Linked DNA regions of Homo sapiens. The protein of the gene in region 1 purifies or fractionates together with the protein of each later gene. This does not show direct contact. Each region holds a gene or a part of one and is shown in the gene's direction. Other genes may lie near its edges.

Region 1 (3,500 bases):
GAGAACCCAGCTGAGCCAACCCAGACTGCTGGCTTACAGAACTGTGAGATAAGAAGTCTGTGATGTTTCAAGCTGCTAAAATTTGTGGTAATTTGTTACTGTAACAATCAAAAGGTATTATTATACTTTATATCAAATATATGGGATTTCCTTTTCTAAATTAAGTAAAGAATATATGCTCCTGAAATGGCAGGTCAAGAGTAGGGGAAGGGGGTGTTGAGTATGGTGGCTCATACCTGTGATCCCAGCACTTTGGGAGGCCAAGGTAGATCACTTGAGCTTAGGAGTTCAAGACCAGTCCTTCATGGGCAATGTGGTGAAATACTGTACTGTCTCTACAAATAATTAGCTGGGCATGGTGATGCATGCTTGTAGTCCCAGCTACTCGCGAGGCTGAAATGGAAGGATGGCTTGAGCCTGGGGGGACAGTGAGCCAAGATCACACCACTGCATTCCAAGACCCTGTCTCAAAAAAAAAAAGGAATATATTCAAATACAATTAAACTTCTTTTATGCTCAATATAGCTACATATGTTTGAAACTGCAAGTTGCATTATTGAAATCTTACACAACTTCCATTGTATCCTGCAACCACTATGCTGATAACAATGAGTAAACAGACATTAAAACTTCTTTTTGGCCCTTCATTCCCCATATGTAAGAGTTTTATTTTTAATCACCAGTGTTTGGCTCTCAGACTGGCACAAGAAGCCTGTTCCTCCTATTAGTAAACTACAAATTTTGATGAAAATAACTTTAGTTTCTAAAGTTTTGTTTTTTTGAGACAGAGTCTTGCTCTGTCACCCAGGCTGGAGTGGAATGGCGCCATCTCGGCTCACTGCAACATCGCCTCCTGGGTACAAGCAGTTCTCAGTTCTCATGCTTCAGCCACCTGAGTAGCTGGGACGACAGGTGCGCACCACCGCACACGGCCAAGTTTCTAAAGTTTGCTCTTTCATTTTGTTTGCTTTTTATGGCTAGCCTCTCCAGTTTGAAATATACTTAAAATGACTGAATTTTTTTTAACTGGATACTTTACTAAACTCTATTCTCTAAGGGGAAACAAAGTTCACTATGAAAGTTATTACTTTTCAGTACATGCAGGCCTCATTGACACACATTGGTAGAAGCTATATATTTGAAGAAGGAATATCTAACTTAGAGAAAATTTGCACGTAAGGAAACAAGTCCTATTTAAACTCATTTGAAAATACTGAGTTAATTGAAGGCAAAAGAATATTAGATGACACCTAATACTTTCAAACTTAATTTAAAAACAAAGAAAGTTCTAAATATTTTTCTCCATGATGTTCCTTCTTCAGTTTTCAAATCTTGCTCTCACAGGGCTGCATTTCACCTGCGGCTGGTAAAATGAGCATGGAACTCAGCCCACACTAGCTAGGAAGGGTCCTACAGGGAGCTCCTCAAGCCCAGCACACCTCCCCGCCCCCTGGGCTGTGCCTCATGGAGCACCATCCAGAATTAGTAAAAGGTGTTTCCCCAAAAAAAGAGCTAGAGCTCCAAGTTTGAATGGCTGGGCGATAAATAAAGCCTAATGTATTTTTTCCTACAGATAATGTATAAATATTGCATGTGAATCTCCAAGGGGGAGATTGTTATTATTAACAGGCAGGGTTTTCCAAACTTGTTTCTTTTTAGAACTAACCCATATTTGGAAGAATGGGGCTGGTCAAAAGACACTCTTAAATGAGATCAGAAAACAGATCTCCATCTTATCTGGTGGGAAACTGAGCCCAAGAATGTTTTGGCCTCACGTTGGTTAACTGAGCAGAATTTTTACTGTTTTCACTATTTACCTACCCTTCAAAATAAAACTCTACTAAAACAGGTGATTTTATTCATTAATAAATATTAAATACATTGAAAAACATGACACCCCTATTAGGAGAATGTAAAGAAAAAATATCCAGATATTTCAACTATTATCAGTCACTGTTAAAATCAACATTACTTTTATACTTAACACCCTTTTTGTTAACTTACCCAGGAAACTTGCCTGGTACTTCGGAAGGTGCCCTCCTCCTCTGGCAAAGTCTGTTGCTTTCTGCCGGACTGAGAGCCAGCAGGAGGCTCAACAGCCCATCCAGGTTTCTCGGTTTACAAAGAAACTAGGCCCAGAGAGGACATGTGCTTTTCCTAAGATTGCAAAACTGAGCCTGGAATAAAGGCTTTATAGATGTTATTAAAGGGGCAGCAAGCCCCTTTATACTGTGGATTTCAAGTTTCTCAACAAAAGAAAGGCTTGGACTTTTTTTGAACCACTGAGTGTGGTTATAATGACAATTATTACTCCACTTTGTAGCAGTAAAAAAAAAGCCTAGAGAATATGAAACTACTCACCTTAAGAGACAGTAAGCATGCCTGTGATTTGGGTTGTTTCAACAGACCTGTGAGCTTCCTTCCTACAGTCTTTCAAAGTTGGAGCCACATAAATGACACAGCTCCCCAGTTTCCAGGAGCCCTTGCCAGTCATGGCCTAAATGGTAACGCATAGGCACAGTCCATGGTGGTCACTCACGTACTAGTTAACTGCAGTCCTCACTGCTAATTAACTACCTAGGTCCCTGTGCCATAAAACTCTACTGTTGCTCTCCAGCCTCACAAAGGTGTTTTTGCCTTCCAGATACTCTCCATTGCATAATGTGAAGTTACCAGAAGCAGATGACATCCAGTACCCGTCCATGCTGCTCCTCACTGCTGACCATGATGACCGCGTGGTCCCGCTTCACTCCCTGAAGTTCATTGCCACCCTTCAGTACATCGTGGGCCGCAGCAGGAAGCAAAGCAACCCCCTGCTTATCCACGTGGACACCAAGGCGGGCCACGGGGCGGGGAAGCCCACAGCCAAAGTGATAGAGGAAGTCTCAGACATGTTTGCGTTCATCGCGCGGTGCCTGAACGTCGACTGGATTCCATAAACAGTTTTCGTGCTTCCTCCTGACAGCGACAGAAAACCTCAAGGGCTTTCCCACGTTGACACCAAGAAACCACTGGGCATAATGCTTCCCCACGGGAACATTATTCCTGCACTCACAGGCTACAGTTGAACAGAACTGCCGTGGGAATTTTATCTTTTTTAGGCTTCTCCTTTTTAGCAAGGCCTTGGTGTTTCTTTTTCCACCCTGTCTAGGCACATGTGGTTTTTTGGTGTTTTTTTTAAGGGCATGTTGGGATAAATAGCTAAATGGCAACAAACACATTGTGAATATTAGATTGCTGAATTAAGGATCATAGTCGGGCATACTTATCTATATCCATAACCTCTATATCTTTAAATAAATGTGAGAACTGTTCTCATGGAGAAGACTTCTTTGCAACAATAATAAATGTTATTTAAGAATGACAGGCTTTTACTTCCGGTTTCTTCATATTGAGGGGCAACTCCAGAAGTGGAGTTTTCTGTGAGAATAAAGCATTTCACCTTTCTGCAACAAGTTAGTTTTCAAGCAGTTAAGTCATAGAATGTTTGTTAGCTTTGA
Region 2 (3,500 bases), on another chromosome or scaffold:
AGATGAGGACGTCGGGGATGAAGGAGGACCCCCCAGGGGCCGGGCTTATCACACCCCTTCTTTCTCTTCTGTTCCACAGGCGGTCCAGCCTCGTCATCACCACCAAGATCTTCTGGGGCGGAAAGTAGGTGCAACAGCTGGCGATGCTTCCAGCCCCGGCCCAGCAGCCACGGCCCCGTGCTCCCCAGAGACCCCTGACCTAGAAGGCTCCTGGGGTGGCGGGAGGACAGTCCTCCTTGAGAAGGGAGAGTGGTCGGGGTCTGTCCTGGACAGGCCCCGGCCCAGTGCCATTTCCTGTCCCCAGCAGGGGCAGAGCTGGTGTTTCTGCAGCCATCAGCTATGCCTGGTGCCTGTCCCTGTTAAGGGACGTCAAATCCAGAAAAGAAGCTGTGGCCGAGTTTGCCTTTTACAAAAACCTCGCTTAACTTTCCTTTTTACTCACATGGATTATTTTTTCCTGGTCACTATGGTAACATCATAAAAATTATAGAGAAAACAGAAAATTTGTGAACTGCCCAAACCCCCAAAGCACTCCAAATTCCCTGGGCCGCCTGTCACCCCTGCAGGTCTCCAAGTGTCTAGCTCCATAGTTTCTGGGCTGGACACACTTGGGCTCATAGGAATTATAACTACGATTCATTCATTCATTCTTTTTTTTATTTTTATTTTGTTTTTATTTTTTATTTTTTTGAGACAGGGTCTCGCTTTGTAATCCAGGTTGGAGCGCAGTGCCACAATCACAGCTCACTGTAGCTTCAAACTCCTGGGCTCGAGCGAGCCTCCCACCTCAGCCTACAGGGATGAGCCACCATGCCTGACTAATTTGTCCTTTTTCTCTCTCTCTCTTTTTTTTTTTTTTTTTGAGACAGGGTCTCACTTTGTCACCCAGGCTGGAGTACAGTGGCGTAGTCCCAGCTCACTGCAGCCTCAACCTCCTGGGTTCAAGTGACCTTCCTGCCTCAAGTAGCTGGTTCTACAGGCACATGCCACCATGCCCAGCTAATTTTTTTATTTTTATTTATATTTTTATTTTTGTATTTTGTAGAGATGGGGTTTCATCATGTTGTCCAGCCTGGTCTCAAACTCCTGAGTTCAAGTAATCTGCCCACCTCAGCTTCCCAAAGCACTAGGATTGCAGGCGTGAGCCACCACGCCTGGCATTAATTTGTCCTTTTTTAAGATATGGGGTCTCACTATGTTGCCCAGGCTGGTCTTGAACTCCTGGGCTCAAGTGATCCTCCTGCCTTAGCCTCCCAAAGTGCTGGGATTACAGGCGTGAGCCACTGTGCCCAGCCTGATGTGTTCTTAATTTAAAAAATAATAATAATAATAATAATAATAATAAGTCCAAATCAAACAGACGGGTTAGGTTGAAAATCAAAGCCCCCCACCCCCTGCTGCTGCCCCCCTCCCCTCTGAGCCCTGTGACCAGGCCTCTCCCTGGGCCTCTGGGAGTTCAGCCCTGTAGCCTCGGGTCCCTACCCCCAAAGTGGAATCCGACTCCACACGGCATTTGCTGACCCTGTTTTTGCGTCTAACATTGCATCGTAAACGTTTTTTGGGAGGGGCCAGGGTGCCAAAACCGCTGGTGACATCACACGCGGTCGGCCTGTTTTCCAGGGCGGAGACGGAGCGGGGCCTGTCCAGGAAGCACATAATCGAAGGTGAGGACGCGCTCGGGCACCTCAGGGCCCCCATACCTGTGGGATCATCCTCGGAGGCCAAAGTGATGGCAGCACAGGGCCCGACCCCCCCAGTTAACCCACTGAGGGCCCAATCCCGGGGCACCCGGTGCTCTGGCCTGACCTTCTCCTTCCACCCAGGTAGCACAGCGGGACGCTGCAGAGAACGAGGGCAGCCCGGTGGCTGAGCACAGACCACAGACCAGCCTGGGTTTCAATCCAGGTTTGGCCCCACACTGGCTGAGTGGGTCTTCAGCAGGGGCACCCTGCCCCATGCCTCTGCCACAGTATCTGTGCAATAGGGACAGTAAGAGCGCACCCGGCGAGGGTGGCTGGGATGCCTGCAGCGCCCAGGAGAAGGTGCCACACAGCCCGGGGCTCAGCACTCGCAGGCACCGGAGCAAGGCACCGGGGTGTCTGGCTCTTGCTGTATCTTTATTGTCTTCATGCCTTTCCTGTCCGTGTTCATTTTCTTCGAGGTAATAGATCATTCCATTGAAAATCACCTGGCGGGGCAAGCCACCCACTCCCATCCTCCCCACCCCAACCCAGCGTTTCACTCTGCCGGCTGTGTGTCCTGAGCTGCTCTAAGCACCAGCGGGTGGCTTGGGCGTTTTAGACACTATTGCCATTGTTTTTGTTTTTGAGATGGAGTTTTGCTCTTGTTGCCCAGGCTGGAGTGCAGCGGCACGATCTTGGCTCACTGCAACCCCCACCTCCTGGGTTCAAGCAATTCTCCTGCCTCAGCCTCCTGAGTAGCTGGGATTACAGGTGCCCACCACCACATCTGGTTAATTTTTTTTGTATTTTTAGTAGACACAGGGTTTCACTATGTTGGCCAGGCTGGTCTCAAACTCCTGGCCCTCAAGTGATGCGCCCGCCTTGGCCCCCCAGAGTGCTGGGATTACAGGCATGGGCCACCACGCCCGACCATAGACACTATTGCCTTTGATGGGACGGGCAGCAGGTGTAGCCCTCCCTCCACATGTGATAGATAAAGTCATCTCCCTGTTGTAATACACAGTGGCCTCAGAGGAGGGTATATTGTCTGAGGGAGGAGGGGCTTCCCCTTCATTTAGTCAAGGACACGTGGCCTGTGGTCCCCCGATGTCCTCCTGAAGGGAAGATCCCCCCACTCCCTGTGGGATGTGCCCCCACCTCTGCCGTGGCATTTCACGACCTCCATCAGCTTCTGGAAGCTTCCAGATGCCAGAGGCCTCTTCTCCATCTCTTGTTCCCTGAGCCGGGCATGGATGGGCCCAGGTGCCTGTGGAGATGGAGCCACAGCAGTGACGCCCCCCCACCTGGTCCTCCCCCAGGTCTGAAAGCTTCCCTGGAGCGACTGCAGCTGGAGTACGTGGATGTGGTGTTTGCCAACCGCCCGGACCCCAACACCCCGATGGAAGGTAGGTGGTCTGCGGCGGCGCCACCGGTTAGGCCTGGGCGGGGTCTGAAGGGTCTGAACCTGGGGTTGTAGAGGCCGCCAGCATGGGCCCTGCTGGGCACCCGGGTGAGCCGTGAGAGGAGGCCGGGTCCAGGGTGGGGGGCGAGGGGGCAGGCCTCCCCTCAGTAGGGGGTGAACTCAGCCTCTGGCTGCAGACCCCTCGCCAGGTGCACCTGGCACCTCCAGGCTGAGTCCCTGTCCTGGCTTTGGACCCAGGCCGATCCGCCCTCCGAGTCAGAGCCGCAGTGGAACTGTCCCCTCCCCTCTGCGGCTGCTATTTTGCAGCTAAGTGAAGTCGCAGTGTGGGGACTCCAACTGCGGTGTTCTCTCCAATCACCATCCATTGGGAAGCTTGGGGGGACTTTTTTGCTCTG
Region 3 (2,753 bases), on another chromosome or scaffold:
TTAGTCTATTGAGTTTAACCGACAGATCATACTGTGTTTTGGTAGGGAGGGAGGGAGGAAGCAAGCAAGTGAACAAATGAGTCTGGGATTTAGGACTTGCCAGACAAACAAGGCCCAAGAGGCAAGTGTGCAGGTGGGTGTAGTTGGGAGTCAGCAGAGTTGGGTTGGAATTCAAGCTTTGCCACCTGCTGGCTATAAACCTTGGTTGGGTAAGTAACCCAAGGTAAATGAGATCATCTCTGTAAAACTCTTAGCCTTGTGCCTGGCACATAGTAAATGCTTAATAAGGGTTCACTGTTAGTATTACTGTTACTGATAACATACAAATAGATTGTATTAATGGACCATAATTGCAACTGTATAAAACAAATTCCATGTTTGGCCAGGCGCAGTGGCTCAAGCCTGTAATCCCATCACTTCGGGAGGCCGAGGTGGGCAGATCACGAGGTCAGGAGATCAAGACCATCCTGGCTAACACAGTGAAACCCCATCTCTACTAAAAATACAAAAAAATTAGCCAGGCATGGTGGCGGGTGCCTGTATTCCCAGCTACTTGGGAGGCTGAGGCAGGAGAATGGCGCGAACCCAGGGGGCGGAGCTTGCAGTGAGCTGTAATTGTGCCACTGCACTCCAGCCTGGGCGACAGAGCGAGACTCCGTCTCAAAAAAAAAAAAAAAAACCACAACAACAACAACAAAAATTCCATGTTGACAAGGATGGGAATATGAGAACATGGAAACAGCTATGAAAAGACATAAGAGAATTAGGAGGATTTTCTTTAATATATCATTTTTTAAAAAAAAACTTGCTTGTATTTGTTTATTTTTTAAATAGAGACAGGGTTTTACCATGTTGCCCAGACTAGTCTTGAACTCCTGGGCTCAAGCGATCTTGGCCTCCCTAAGTGCTGGGATTACAGTCATGAGCCACTGTGCCCCGCCATTTTTTAATAAACCTTTCTAATGGAACAAGTAAAACACATGCAGTGGATGCTCAGCAGGCCTTGAGTGTGTGAATGAAAAATATTTGAACTTGTTTTTACTGGTTGATTTCATTGCTTAAAAAACATACCTTAGCTGGACGCAGTGGCGTGCGCCTGTAGTCCCAGCTACTCATCTCTTAAAAAAAAAGTTTTATGCTTGTTAATTTCATAAATGCTAGAGGGATCACCCTAATCAAATAAAGCTACTCAAAAATAAAATATGAAAGGTGTTAGTGGGATACAGCTTTCTAGTTTTTTGCCACTAGTGGATAGGTTGGAATTTAAATTCTTCGGATATTGGAACCAGAACAGGCTGTAACTGATTATTTTTGCTGTGATTCGTGCTTACTGGAGCCTCGGGAAAGAGGGAGACAACATGTAAAGAGAAGCAATCTGTTTGGAAAATGAAAATACAGTTAAATTGCTAATGAACCCTTGTCAAAATCAAATGTCTCCCCTTAGAGGCTGATGATTGTCTAGTCTAATATGCATTTTTTTTGAGTGGGTCAATTGGACTCTAAGACCAACAAGATAAAAAGGCAGCCTTGCATGTCACTTGGACCACAGCTGTCTGGCCATGCAGCATGCCTTCACTGCTGCTGAAGAAAAGCAGCTGCTTGTTGAGAATCTCAAATTCTCAGATCCTAATTGCCTGGCCCTGACTCTAAGCTGAAACCTGCTACTGTCTGCCTTGAGCTGTTTTAGCCTCAACACGAGCTATGCTGAACTGAAAGCAGGCACAGGCTCAATGACCAGGACTCAGACGTTGGGGCCGTTGGAGATTAAGGACCCCCTCCGTGGAGCGCTAAACTATGAAAACGTCCTGGAACCTGGCTGAAAAGGGCTTATTCTCTAATGGGACCATCTAAGATCAAGCTGCTGATAGGCTCTTTGTCTCTAATACAGAGGCTAATTGCATTCCTAACTTCTAATATTTGCCAAACGCTCCAAGCTGGGGAAGGGCACATCGCAAGGACTATGACCTCTCCTCCTGCTTTTGACAGACCAGACTCAAACCTTCTCTGGGGCTTCTCTCACTGCTGTTGACTTGTTGCATTCAGCTTTTGGGATTAGTTGCAGCTTGCAACAGTGGACTGACAGCCTGACTCTACTTCCCTCACTTTTCTCCCAGCACACACAGCTTAGTAAGGTAGGTGGATTATTAAAACGTAGCTGTCCCCAGAAAGGTATTAGGCTTTTCTAGTCTGCTCATTGAATAATCAGGACAAAAGGGGTAGAAGATTATGTAAACACATTTTGAAATTTTTAAAAATTCAGGGTTTCATCCTTTATTAGTTTGCTAAGGATACCATAACAAAGTACCACAAACTGAGTGACTTACACAATAGAAACTTATTTTCCTGCAGTTCTGGAGGCTGAAAGTCCAGGACAAGGTGTCGACAGCTTTAGATTCTTCTGAGGCCTCTCTGCTTGGCTTGCAGATGGCTGCCTTCTTACTGTGTCCTTGTATGGTCCCTCTGTCTGGGTGTCTGTGTCCTAATCTTCTCTTTTAATAAGGATACCACTCAGGTTGGATTAGGGCCCATCCTAACAATCCCATTTTAACTTAGTTACCTCTTCAGGGCCTATCTTCAAATATACTCACATTTTGAGGTACAGGTAGATGGTTAGGGCTTCAGCATGAATTTTTGTGGGGACATAATTCAACCCTCCACACATAATTACCAATTTCTGAATGTCTTTCTGGTTAAGTTGCATAAAAACGTTTATCTACTTGAACTCTAGGATGATAGTTAAAAAAAAAAATGTT

Evidence for each region. Proteins that work in one complex are often made in the same cells at the same time.
Region 2: the proteins of PREP (region 1) and KCNAB2 fractionate together in Homo sapiens (co-fractionation; one large-scale study listed by BioGRID). This does not show direct contact.
Region 3: the proteins of PREP (region 1) and DCTN5 fractionate together in Homo sapiens (co-fractionation; one large-scale study listed by BioGRID). This does not show direct contact.

The regions. Positions count from the first base shown.
Region 1 is NC_000006.12:105,277,583-105,281,082, reverse strand, and holds part of PREP (prolyl endopeptidase), read left to right. Parts: exon of another isoform or gene 1-462; intron 463-2,004; exon of another isoform or gene 2,005-2,067; intron 2,068-2,644; coding exon 2,645-2,939; 3' UTR 2,940-3,500. UniProt on the Homo sapiens protein: Cleaves peptide bonds on the C-terminal side of prolyl residues within peptides that are up to approximately 30 amino acids long.
Region 2 is NC_000001.11:6,087,388-6,090,887, forward strand, and holds part of KCNAB2 (voltage-gated potassium channel subunit beta-2), read left to right. Parts: intron 1-79; coding exon 80-124; intron 125-1,620; coding exon 1,621-1,664; intron 1,665-3,001; coding exon 3,002-3,088; intron 3,089-3,500.
Region 3 is NC_000016.10:23,672,466-23,675,218, forward strand, and holds part of DCTN5 (dynactin subunit 5), read left to right. Parts: 3' UTR 1-2,753. UniProt on the Homo sapiens protein: Part of the dynactin complex that activates the molecular motor dynein for ultra-processive transport along microtubules.